Linked DNA regions of Homo sapiens. The protein of the gene in region 2 interacts with the protein of the main gene of each other region in a biochemical or structural test. Each region holds a gene or a part of one and is shown on either strand. Other genes may lie near its edges. The genes, in order: TENT4B and ZCCHC14.

What was found.
Region 1: the proteins of ZCCHC14 (region 2) and TENT4B form a complex in vitro, tested with the Homo sapiens proteins (one study listed by BioGRID).

What each region holds. Positions count from the first base shown.
Region 1 is NC_000016.10:50,151,497-50,155,602, reverse strand, and holds the start of TENT4B (terminal nucleotidyltransferase 4B), read right to left. Parts: upstream 2,298-4,106; 5' UTR 1,982-2,297; coding exon 1,344-1,981; intron 1-1,343. UniProt on the Homo sapiens protein: Terminal nucleotidyltransferase that catalyzes preferentially the transfer of ATP and GTP on RNA 3' poly(A) tail creating a heterogeneous 3' poly(A) tail leading to mRNAs stabilization by protecting mRNAs from active deadenylation.
Region 2 is NC_000016.10:87,423,425-87,427,024, forward strand, and holds part of ZCCHC14 (zinc finger CCHC domain-containing protein 14), read right to left. Parts: intron 458-3,600; coding exon 386-457; intron 1-385.

The DNA.
Region 1 (4,106 bases), about 37 Mb from region 2:
CGCTTGACTGCATTTTCCACAAAAGGTAGGAGTTGTAATAGTAGCATAGAGCAGACACCAGCCCACTGGAAGCAGATGGAACCCACCAACTCATTTTATCCAGACCTTCAAAAAGGTACACAGAACTCTCTCTCTCAGCCAAAGCAGGGCAGATCTGAATGAATAAATCCAGGAAAAGGTTCACATGGGATTACTAATTGGTAATTTCATTTGCATGCTAAAGCCCTCAATGTAAAACACAACCTGAAAAATGAAAAGCAATTTGAAAGCCGGTTCTCCATACTCAAGCTACACACACACACACACACACACACACACACACACACACACCCACGAGACCCAAAAGCTTTGTTTTACAAAACAAATAAGATTCAGTGACCTATTCCAGCACAGGGACTCTTCTGAAGGGAGATCTAGTTGGAAACATTCCCTGCTTATGTACATAATTCACTAGGGGTCAGGTAAGATTCCATTTTCTAAGAGCTGAACTTTAAACAGAAAGTCACTAGTGGTGCAATATTCACTCATTAGCATAAATCTCTACCCCCTAGAATGAAAAGCATTGGCTGCCTCTGCCAGGATGACAACTTTACAGTGAGAAGCTGGAGCCGCGGACCATGAACTCCTGGAAAGTTCTATCAGGGCCTCAGAAGGGCTCACCACCTTCACCAGCCTAAACTTAGTGGTCACCCATCCCACGCCACCCTCTGCATAGACAGGGCATCTGTGACATGGGAATTTTTTAAAAATAAAAAGATGGGCCAAAGGGTCAAGAGCAGGCAATGCCTTACAGGGCTGACATAATTGCTGTCTGGGATTGGGGGATGGGGAGGAGCATTCTGGATGTTTCTATTCTTGGCAAGGAAAGCACCTCCGGGTCCTGCACCATCAAAAAACACTCACACACCAATGTTCTCAGGGAATGAATGATAGGCCCGTGCTAAGCGGTCTCATCTTGAGTTGTGATGATGGGGAAAAAGGTGTGGAGGGCTGGAGGCGGGGTGGTGGTCAAGGGTAGATGTGTTTAACTAAGGGGGATGGGAGGAGAGTGAATGGATAAAGGGGGGGGCCTGGGGAAGGTGTGGACGGTTAAGAGGGAGGGGAGGAAGGTGTGGACGACTAAGGGAGGACAGGAGACGGAGGGTGTGGACGGCTAAGGAGGCTTGGGGAAAGGTGTGAACGACTGGGGGGTTGGGGATGGCCAGCAGCACCCCCGTGCAACAGCAGCGAAGGCAGGCCGTGGGGGTGGCCGCTCCTAGACCCTCACAACCCCCCTCTGTGGGCGTGTGCCCGGCTGCGCATTCGCACCGGCCAGGCCATCGGGCCGCAGAGCCAGCACTCACCCCACGACTCCCTGGTTGTAGTTCCTCCGTTTCCACGGGGTCCCGCTGTACACGACCCCGCCGCCGTCTGCTCGGCCGCCCCCCGCGGCCCGCCCTCCGCTGGGCTGCAGCAGGCTGTAGTTGAGTCCATACGTGCTGGCCTTGTTGTCGCGCTTCCTCTTGTTGCTGCTGCCCGAGGCCGAATCGGCTGGATCGGCGGCGGGGACGGCGGCCGAAGGGTGCGGGGACGAGGACGCCGAGGGAGGCGAGGACGCCGAGGAGCCCGCCCGGCGGGCCCAGGCCCCGGGCTGGTGGTGGTTGTTGTTGTTGTTGGTCGTCTCTAGGGGCAGGAAGTCCCGCTGCTCCGCGGGCAGCGCGTGGCTGCCCAGCAGGCGCTCCCCGGAGCGATACATGCCGGCCGGGGCCGGGGCCGGGGCCGAGGCCGCGCCGCCGGGGCTGCCGGTGCTGCTGCCGCTCCCGCCGGTGGCCGTGCTGCTGCTGCTGCTGCTGCCGCCGCCGCCGCTCGCGCCGCCGCTGCTGTGACAGTGGTGGTTGAAGTAGAGGTTCCTCAGCCCCTGGGTCGTCTCCCAGATCTGCATCCACAGACTGTTGGACGGTCCGAGCTGCTCTGGCTGAAACCAGGCGATCCTCGGATCCATCAAACGGCGGCGGCCGCTGCCCCCGCCCCTCCCGGCCGCCCGCAGGGCCGCCGCCGCCGCCGCCTCAGGCGCACGCCCGGCCTCGGCTGCTGCTGCTGCTGCCGCTGCTGCCGCTGCTGCTGCTGCTGCTGCTCGGGGCCCGCCGCGGGCGGCGCGGTCGCGCAGGGAGCCCGGCCGGCGCCGGCGGCGTCGCTCCCGCCCTCGGGGGCTCCGCGGGCCCTCCCCCCCTCCCTCCGCCCCTCCGCCCCTCCGCCGAGCCCCTGTCACTGGGGTCCCCGTGCAAATGGCGGCGGCGGCGGCGGCGGCTCCACAGAAGAGCGAGCGGCGGCGGCGGCAGCGGCGGCAGCGAGACGCGCCTGCTCCGTAGCGTCCTCGCTCCTCCGGCCCCGGGGCGGGGCCTCTGCCGGCTCCGCCCCTCTCGCTCCGCCCCCCCCCCCCACCGCCCCGCCCTCACGCGCTCGCCCCGCCCCCGCTGCGCCGCGCAGCAGCCCGGGAGGCCTCGCCGTGCGTCACAGAGGCCGCGGCGCGACGGGGCCGCAACCGCCTGGCCCAACCGTACTTGCGCCATCTGTGGAGTGCTCCCACGTACCTGGGCGTCCGGGAGCTTCTGAGGCGCGCGCGGCTTCTCCGCCTCGGCTTCCCCGGTGCTGAGCGTGGACGAGGCCGCATGGAGGTTGCCGCCCGCCCCGCAGGGAGCGCGTTGTGGGAGGTGCCACTCCGCCCCTCGCTCCTCGCCCCTCCCATCCCTGTGGCCGCCGGATCCCGGGCCCTCGCAACCCTTCCTGACGTCTTGGCTTCTGCCTGCTTTCTAAAACACTTTCTTTTTAAAAAAAAAAAAAAAAAAAAAAACAGCCTATAACACTTTTTCTGGTGGCGTGGGGACACGCCCCCTGCCCGAGCGTGTGCCCCGGGGTCCTGACGCGGGCTGCGCGAGACCCTGCACGGCTACGTGTGCCCCGCCCTGCTGCGCCCTGGCCGGGGTGGGGGACCCCTCACCCCGGCCTGAGGCCACAGAAACCTGTACCCCATGCATAGCCCTGGGGGAGACCACTAAGACTGAGAGTGTGAGCCAAGGGCGGAAAGCCGCAGCCGCACACTCAACCCACTTTACAGGGACACGCAAACACGTGTAGATGCACAGAGAAGCAGACACACTCCTGCGCGGCGTAGCAAAGACGCTCTCCTGCCCTAAGGTGCACCAACAGCCTTAGAAAGCTCTTCTGAGTTCAGCATTAAATTTTAAGAAAACCCAAAACCTTTTAATCCTAAAATGAAGATTTAGCATCAGCAAAGATTGTCCACTAGGTCGTTATTTGCATGTCTTTCAAATCTCAGTGGTTAAAAAGCCAAGGAAAGGGGAATGTTAAGTATTTTAAATCAAGAGACTAAAAGAAAGTAAGTGAACAGCTTCTATGTGGGCCCTTTAAGGTTGGTCCAACGTCCAGAACAAGTCCCTGATGCCTGATATTGGCCTTCCATTTTGGGAGCTCAATATCCTGGAAAGTTTTTATGACAAATAGTGGAAAACTATCAAAGAACTAAGTGTCGCTCTACCTTTTTCTTTCTTTCGAGACTAACTCTTGCTCTGTCATCTGGAGTTCAGTGACTCATTCACAGCTCACTGCAGGCTCGGCCTCTTGGGTTCAAGCGATCCTCTTGCCCCAGCCTCCGAGTAGCTAGGACTATAGGCACGCGTCAACATGGCATAGAGACGAAGTTGCTCTGCGCTGCCCAGGCTGGTCTGGAACTCCTGGACTTAAGCGATCCTCCTACCTCAGACTCCAAAACTGCTGGGATTACAAGGGGGTGAGCCACCACGCCTGACCTTACTTTTTTTTTTTTTTTTGGTAAGAGAATAAATAGCACGACCAGAAATACGGAAAACACACAAAGACCCTTCAGCTGCAAACAACAGCTTCCTTGGTAGTTTATGCAGCCTGTTTCTTGTATGGGCTGCTCTAAGGGACCATGGAGACAGGCCTTTCAGATGTATGTTCATGTCTTTGACCTTGCACTACGCCAATGTAGGCTCCAGGCAGATATTCGAGGTGCCTTTGAAAAGCTCCAGGGCACTGTGGCCAGGGTTCACATTGGCCAAGTTATCATGTCCATCTGCAACAAGCTG
Region 2 (3,600 bases):
AAAGGTAGAACTAGGTGAAGTCTCTACCCACTCAGCCACCTGAGCATGCCTCTCTCCCCCAGCCTTTGCCAAGGAAACCTGGGGGACTGAAAAGTAACAAAAGAAACCAAATGTCCTCATCAGTCGCTCATGCCCGGCGCATCTCTCAGCCTCATCTCAGTCTCAACAAGTGAAGGAGGCATCCGCGGGGTCACGGACCTGTGCTCGCAGCAACGCTCATGTCAGCAGCGGGCCTGGGACTCCACTGTGGCTGGGCAGGAGGCCCCGCCCTGCGCACGCTCACTCGCTAGCTGAAGGGAGTGGCCTCTGAAATTACTCCGTGGTATCATCAGCCACTGGGGAATGTGATTCTTTTAATTTTTATAAGAGCCCTTGATTACCTTACCTTTGAAATAAATTCCGTCACTTCAGAGGAAGATTTGGTTACTGATGTTATTGAAGAATCAGACCACAAGACCTTAAAAACAAACAAACAAACAAACCTTAGAAACAGACACCACATACTTGGTTCCCAGCACGTGTCCTGGTACGACTGGGGCACACGTTCAGTCGGCAGCTGAGCCCAGTGGGCCGTGCACCTGCTGTGGGAAGCACCTAAGCATCCCTTGACTTGTTACAGAAAGAAGAGTCACATAGCTCCAGGCCCTCTAAAGTCTAACTTGTTTTATGCAATTATTCAGATATCACCAAATTACTCCAGAGTGGGGTCTACAGCTGCCTCCTGTAAGTTCTAGAAAATCCCTGACAATTGCTTGTGTGTGCCCTGTTCAACTTCCTCAGGGGACCTCCTCTTCTTAAGTGAGCCTATGTGCCTCAGATGCAAGAGCGACACATTCCCAGAGAGCAGCCCTTCGACCACCGGTAAGGGCCCGTGGTGCGCCCGCCCAGGTGCTGTGGGCACACAGTGAGCCCAGGCCCTGCTCTCAGGACACTGCAGAGCTGTGGGGACAGTGTGAGTCCATTGATAGCAACAGGACAGGGCAGTGATCACTAGGGCAGCAGTGATCACTGCTGGGGAAGAGCAGTGAAAAGGGCTTTCTGGAGGAGATTCTGCAACGTCTGGTGTGCCCAGCCCTTGTGAGCATCAGCTTTCCTTCCCAGCATGCAGCAGCGGGCGGTGTCACTGCATGGCTCCACGGAGGTCCATCTCCCCACATGCACGCTAAGCTCCAGGGGGGAAGGGGCGGTGTCTTTTTGCTCAGCTCTCCCCTGGCTATCACAATGCTCGTCACATGAGGTGCTAAACAAAGCTGACTGAGGGGGAAGGAGAGCGTACTTTTTGCACATTAGAGGGAGTTTCTGCATGGAGAAGAGCTTGGGTTGACTTCTGAAAGGCAAATAAGAAGTTAGCTACAGGATTGAGATGGACAGAGGGGATGGCCTGAAATGACAGGGAGGAGGCCAGGTCAGGAAGGGACAAGCACCAAATGCAAATTGCACTCAAGTCCACAAGAAGCTGGGGGATTTCAAGTCGGCAAATAAAATGACCAAATACATTATGCAAAAGAAAACGCTGTATTAACACTGATTTAGAGCAAAGAGAGCTCACAGGCACCCAAACCACCTCTGCTCCCTCACCCACACCCACACCCACATCCATGGGCCTGCAGTCTAGTCCCCGAGGTGTCCACCCTCCTGCCTGCTGAAACTGAGGCCAGTCTCGTCACATCACGTAGCGTCACTCCTGGGTCTGTTTCATCACGCCCTCATAATACACAGGCCAGTCGAGGAAAGGGCCACCTCTTCTTCACCAGAACCCCAGTGCCTACCAGAATTCATCAAGGCAAGCAGCAGCGTCCCTGGAACTAACGGCTGCAAGGCGTGCACCTTGCCACCCAGAATCTTCCACACCTAAAATGAAAATGCTTGAGGCCGGGCGCAGTGGCTCACACCTGTAATCCCAGCACTTTGGGAGGCTGAGGTGGGCGGATCACCTGAGGTCAGGAGTTCAAGACCAGCCTGACCAACGTGGAGAAACCCCGTCTCTACTAAAAATACAAAATTGGCCGGGCATGGTGGCAGGCGCCTGTAATCCTAGCTACTTGGGAGACTGAGGTGGGAGAACTGCTTGAACCCGGGAGGGGGAGGCTGCAGTGAGCCGAGATCGCGCCATTGCACTCCAGCCTGGGCAACAAGAGCGAAACTCTATCAAAAAAAAAAAAGAAAGAAAGAAAGAAAAGAAAAGAAAAGAAAATGTTTGAGCTCCTTCTCTGCCTTAAATATTAAAATCTCTCAACACCAAAAATCTTGGGGAGAGGTTCCTAAGCTGCTCCCCACACAGAACTCCAAGAACACCACCACCAACAGACACAAACCCCTGCCGTGAAGATGGCTGTCCCCCGCGCTGCTGACAGCGTGTCTCTTTCAAGGTAAAGCGTGTCATAGAAAACGTCTCCTCTGCACAGCTCTCACACCTGCCTCTAGGCTGTATCTTTCCTACTGCGCCCTAACCCAGGGAAGATGTGAAATCCACCACCCCAGCGATTAAACATGGTATGGACAGATCATCTTATGTTGAAACAGACAATCTGCTTTTCCAACAGTTATGCACTTTAATTACACAGGACTCTTCTACTTTGTGTTCGGATACATTTTTCTCTGACTTGCAGGTGCAGCTCACATTCCTCCCTAAGGCTATCAGAAAGTGAGCACTGGAAACAGAGACCGCACAGTCAGGCGGAGACCAGCCCATGTCGCTCGCTCTGCAGGTGATGCTGGCTGATGGCTAAGCTGCAGCAGCCACGATCCAGACCCAGCCAAGCCCTCTACCTCACCTGCCGACTTGCCCCAGAGAGCCAGAAGGGGAACCGGCCGTTAGAGGGGCATGGGGGCGGGAAGAGCATCCTCTTGTCATACCTGCCTGACCCGTACTATGGGGACACGTGTCCAACCATACTCACAAGCATCCACAACCAGCTACCCCATTACTTTACATTTCACCAAGAAAAAGTGTTGCCAATTAGATTCTGGCACAGCATCTTCTATCACGTCCCTGAAAAGCTACTTAGCCTTATCTGGACGAATTGTAATGCATCTTCATCACACCCCAAAGCCCAATGTGCACACAGCCCGTGCATGCTCAGGATGTCCTCACACGCAGGGTCTAGTTCCTCCGGCTCACTGTGGACTGGCTCTGAACATCAGTGTTTTTCCACACAGCCTCCCCCTCCAGAGCCACTGGAGCCATGCGGCCTCATTCTGCACAAGAAAAGGCTCAGCCAGGCACCTCTGGGGGCAGGGCTCAGCCACACCCCTAAGGGGACAGGCAGCCCAGGATCCCCCAGACCTTTGGAGACCCCTGAGGAGAGCCAAGGCCCAGCACAGAGACAGGCAAAGCCAGCAAGGAGAACACAGCAGCCAAGGGAAAGCGTGGACTCTAAGAAAACTAAAAAATTTTCATCAATATTCTTACTAAGCTAAGAGAAGAAGGCATATCCGAGAACAGGATGCTATGAAAAAACAACTGTCAGAGCCCAAGAGTTCTCTGAAATGAAAACCAGGCCAGTAGGAATGAAACGCTCAACTAAAGGCAGGAAGACGAGGCAGCCGTCCACAGAGCAGAGCAAAAACCCGACGGGACGCGGGCTCGCGTGCACGCCA